Regions from separate parts of the Homo sapiens genome. Here region 2 is linked to region 1. Evidence: fine-mapped expression QTL. Tissue or cell type: pancreatic islets. Region 1 holds a variant in brackets; the other region holds the start of a gene. All regions are shown on one strand. Distances are between the middles of the regions.

Region 1 (2,500 bases):
TGGGATAACAGGCAAGCCTGACTGCACCCAGCAAAATTCACCATTTTTAACCATTTTTAAGTATAGAGTTCAGTGGCAACAACATTGACATTATTATGCAACCATCACTGTCATCCATTTCCAGAATGTCTTCACCCTCCTAAACTGAAACTCTGTCCCCATTCAACACTAACTCCCCATTCACCTCCCCAGCCCTTGACAGTCACCATTCTACTTCTGTCTCGATGATTTTGACTACTCTAGGGACCTGATAAGTGAATTCATACAATGAGGTGCCCTTTTTGCGACTGGCTTATTTCACTTGGCACAATGTCTTCAAGGTTCACCCATGTTGTAGCCTGTGAGCATGGGTCAGAGTTCACTTCCCTTTCATTGCTGAATGAAATTCCATTGTTTGTATAGATCACATTTTGTCAATGGGCATTTGAGTTGTTTCTACCTTTTGGTGACTGTGAATAATGCTGCTAAGAATACTAGTGTCAGCCAGGCATGGTGGCTCACGCCTGTAATCCCTGCATTTTGGGAGACCGAGGCAGGCGGATCACCTGAGGTCAGGAGTTCGAGACCCACCTGGCCAACATGATGAAACCCTGTCTCTACTAAAAATACAAAAAATTAGCCGGCCATGGTGGTGGGCGCCTGTAATCCCAGCTACTCGGGAGGCCTGAGGCAGGAGAATCACTTGAACCCGGGAGGTGGAGGTTGCAGTGAGCTGAGATCGCACCACTGCACTCCAGCCTGGGCAACAAGAATGAAACTCCATCTCAAAAAAAAAAAAAGAATACTAGTGTCCAGACTCCATTGGATCCTATGGTAATTCTTTGTTTAGGACCTTGCATTTTTCTTTCTTTTCTTTTTTTTTTTTTTTTTTTGAGACTGAGTTTCACTCTGTCACTCAGGCTGGAGTGCAGTGGTGCGATCTCGGCTCACTGCAACCTCTGCCTCCCAGGTTCAACAGATTCTTCTGCCTCAGCCTCCTGAGTAGCTGAGATTACAGGCATGCGCCACCATGCCTGGCTAATTTTTTTGTATTTTTAGTAGAGACGGGGTTTCACCATGTTGGTCAGGCTGGTCTCGAACTCCTGACCTCAGATGATCCACCCACCTCGGCCTCACAAAGTGCTGGGATTATAGGCATGAGCCACTGCACCCAGCCAGGACCTTGCATTTTTCTTTGCTATATTTTATCTGTGGACATCACACCAGCTTGCTGAGATCTTTTGGGCCTAGATTCTGCCCCAACTTTGTGTCACCAGCGAATCTGAGAGTCAGCACCCTTTCCAGGTGGCTTTAACTAACAGCCAGTCCGCCTAATTGTATCCATACTTCTCTTCCCCATAAG[AGCCT/A]GCCTGCTAGAGGGCGTTGCTCACCCTGAGTGGTAACATCAGGTCAGCTGTGGTTTTCTGTTAGATCAACTTGACAGTAACGTTTCACAACTAAATAAGCATGTGACCCAGCATCCAATCTTGGGTATATACACGAAAAAATGGAAATATATGTCCAAACACTTGTATATGAACGTTCAAAGCAACACTATTCATAAGAGCCAAAAGGTGGAAACAACAAAATGTCCATCACCTGATGAGTGAAGAAACGAAGTGTGGTATATTGATACAGTGGAATATTGTTGGGCTACAAAATGTCCACAAGAGGCAAATCCATACAGACAGAAAGGCTAGTAGTTGCTGGGGGATAGGGGTGGCAAGGGGAGAGTGGGGAATGACTGCTAATGGGTATCAGTTTCTTTTTAGGGTGAGGCAAACGTTCTGGAATTACATGGTAATGATGTTGGCACAACCTGAATATACTAAAAATTAATGCACTGTACAGTGAATTTTATGGTATGTTAATTATATCTCAGTAAAGCTGTTTTTTAAAAAAAACTTAGAAAACAGGGAAGTGAGGTCCATCCTCAAGTCATTTTCAGTGAACCCATGGAAATTGTTGCTTCCCTTCTTAAAGTGCTCACAAACCGTCCTCTGGCAACACTAGATCCTGGGCTGGTGCATCTGTGATTCACATACTCTGCCCACTTCTGGGAAACCCAGAAGCACCTTGCTTGTTTCCAGATCTGGAACACCTGTCTCATCCTTCACGGTTCCTCAAAGCTCACCAACAGCCACCCAGCGATCTTGTCTGTGTCCTTTAGTGCTTTGCAATGTAGCTCTGCCAGCAAGGAGGCTGCACTGAGCACAGAGCTGCTTGAGTAAGAAGTAGCCAGCATACTGTTAAAGTGAGGGCACTGAGAAAAAAAAAAACACAAGAAATAAAAATAGAAGCACCCACCAGAGGAAGGTGGTGAATGCTAAGTCCCGGAGAAGGATGGACAGTGGGTGCTATTGGAGAGCTGTGGGGGAAGCAGGTGGCTCCCTGAGCTCCTGGGCACAGGAGGACCATAGAGGAGGGCAGGGAGGGGGTGGCTGGGTGAGAGGAATGGCACAAGTTGGCCACTGTGGCTGGAAGGGAGCCTGTCAGGGATTCCTGGGCCTCCTCTCCAGCC
Region 2 (2,500 bases), 25 kb before region 1:
GCCTGGCTGATGTAACAGCGGCATCAGCCTTCCTTGGGGAGAATGACGACTGTATTTGTTTTTACCCTCTTGTTAAAAATGCTGATTTAATTTTCAAGCTTCTTTTCCTTCTTTCCTTTCTTTTTTCCTCCCCCTCTCCCTCCTTCTTCTTCGTTTATTTTTAGAGCCAGGGTCTCACTCTGTCGCCCAGGCTGGAGTGCAGTGGCCTGACCATGGCTCGTTGCAGCCTCGACCTCCCGGGCTCAAGCCATCCTCCTACTTCAGCCTCCTGAGTAGCTGGGACTACAGACGAGCGCCACTATGCCTGGCTGATTTTTTAAAAGTTTTTGTAGAGACAGTCTAACTATGTTGCCCAGTCTGGTCTCGAACTCCTGGGCTCAAAAGATCCTGCCACCAACACCTAAGTGTTGGGATTGCGGATGTGAGTCTCCGCGCCAGGTTTCTTCTCTTTTCTTGTGCGTTTCACGCAAAAAAACCCGAGTCCCTGAAGCTACGCTGCTTTCCTGCCTCTAGGGAAAACGGGAGTTTTTTCTGCTCGTTTGCTCTCTCTCTTTTTTGTTTGCTTATTTGTTTTTAGTATTTTTAGCATGTTTTGGAAACATTTCGTTCCAATGAGTGTTTGAAAAGCAGCTCCCCCGCCCCACGCTCCGGGCGGGCGCCTCCCACTCCCTGACCCCGGGGAGGGTGGGCACCACTCCCAGACGCGGGGGACGCGTGGGTGTCGCTCGGGGGCGCTCGCCTCCCCCACCCAGCCTGTCCCGGGCCGCGAGCGCTTCCAGTCGGGTTACTTCTGGGGGACAAGAAAGGCACCGTCTGAACGGTCGAGACGCTTTTTCCCGCTACGGTTTTCCCCGGAGCTGACAGGGGCAGCAAGGTCGGAGTTGATCCGAGGGTCCCTGCCTGGTCCCGGGGGGACGGTCAGCCTCCCGCCCGGAGCCGCGGGGAGAGGAAGCAGGTCGGGGTCTCCGGGACGCGCAGACACCCAGACACCGGCGGCCTCCTCCCACCAGGCTGGCAGTCGCTGAGCCCTGGCGCCTCCTTAAAGCCGCAGCTCCGCCCCGACCGCCCCGCCCGCCAGTCCGTCCTCAGACCCTCCCAACCGCCGGGTCCCCGCCGCCTCGGCGGAGTGTTGTAGAGCCTCGAGCCTGCGAGGAGCGCGCCGCCCGCCAGCTCCCTGCGTCCCGTCCCGCGTCCCCGCGTTCCCGCGTCCTGCGATCCGCCGCCATGGCCAGTGAGGAGCTGGCGTGCAAGCTGGAGCGCCGGCTGCGGCGCGAGGAGGCCGAGGAGAGTGGCCCCCAGCTGGCTCCCCTCGGCGCCCCAGCCCCGGAGCCCAAGCCCGAGCCCGAGCCTCCCGCCCGTGCGCCCACGGCCAGCGCCGACGCGGAGCTGAGCGCCCAGCTGAGCCGGCGGCTGGACATCAACGAGGGCGCTGCGCGGCCCCGGCGCTGCAGGGTCTTCAACCCCTACACGGAGTTCCCGGAGTTCAGCCGCCGCCTCATCAAGGACCTGGAGAGCATGTTCAAACTGTGAGCTCCCGCTGCGCGCCCTTCGCCCCCGGGACCAGGGAGGGAGCGGGAGGGCTTTCTGGTCCGAAGTCCCGGGCCCTGTTTGTGTGGGGAGGGGTCCCGGGGTGCAGGTAGCATTTGGCCCAACGCAGCCAGATCTTGCGTGCTCGGGTCTATCTCGGCGCGGTGGGGGACGGGGCCGAAGAGGGGGGACACCAGGAGCAGGAGCTCTCCGGGACGGAGCCCAAAAGTTCTCGGCGGCTGCCGGGCCCGAGTTCCAGGTCCCCCAACCCCGACCACTGGTCCCGCCCCCTCCGCCCGCCAGTCCGGAGATTTGCTCCGAAAGCAACTTCTAGGAAAGGGAGCCGTCGCCGCGCCTCACCTGCCAGCTTTCACTGTATCCCCCCAAGGGAAAAATTAGCCCCTGTTGGCCTTTTATCTTTTAAAACAAAAGGGGAAAGTTAATCCTTGGCTGCAGCGCGGGGTCTGATGAATGAGCGGAGGCCGAGAACGGGGAGTTTGGTAAAGTCGTTGTAAGAGATTCAGGACTTTCCTGGAGCAGGCGCGGCCCGGGAGCCTCCTGGGGGCGCGGGGAGGGGGGGCGGTTGTGGGAACCGAACTTGGCCGCTGGCACCGGTCCGGCGGGGGCTCGTTGCGGTCCTGCTCTGTGAGCCCCAGTGCGCGGGGAGCCGCTCACCTGGGGAGACACTGAGCCAGAGGCAGGCGATAGAGACCCACTAGTCCACCTCGTCGCCTGGAACCTCCGGGGATCTCAGTTTCCTCATCTGGAGAGTGGGAGCAGTAACAGTCCCTGCCTTTTAAGGCCGAAAAGTATTTTGCACCCGGTAAGCTCTTAACCGAGCTATTAATATTTCCAGAATTGAGCCGAGACCGGAAAAATGCCTGGGGGAGCTGAGGCCGCCGGCCAGGTCATGCTTGGGCGTTTTTAAAAGCGCATGGAATGTGTTTGCCCTCCGCGTGGAGGTTCTATTTAA

Direction of the effects. Positions count from the first base shown, and alleles are read on the strand shown. Sizes are in standard deviations (SD) of each study's normalised expression.
As copies of AGCCT replace A in region 1, the expression in pancreatic islets of the gene that starts at base 1,124 in region 2 goes up (moderate effect, 0.54 SD a copy in PISA).

What was found. PIP is the estimated chance that this variant, and not a neighbour inherited with it, causes the effect.
Region 2: it holds the start of EFHD1, and the variant in region 1 is fine-mapped to the expression of EFHD1 in pancreatic islets (PISA, PIP 0.95).

What each region holds. Positions count from the first base shown.
Region 1 is chr2:232,657,047-232,659,546 of GRCh38, forward strand. All of the region lies in intron 1 of EFHD1 (EF-hand domain family member D1), which reads left to right. Among named protein-coding and RNA genes, the nearest start is that of EFHD1, 25 kb to the left of the region's middle. The variant AGCCT/A (reference allele first, on the strand shown) is at 1,343.
Region 2 is chr2:232,632,481-232,634,980 of GRCh38, forward strand. It overlaps EFHD1 (EF-hand domain family member D1), which reads left to right and starts at 1,124. Exons shown (of 4, transcript NM_025202.4): 1 at 1,124-1,526. The coding sequence starts at 1,225. RefSeq lists silencers at 1,162-1,221, 1,299-1,593.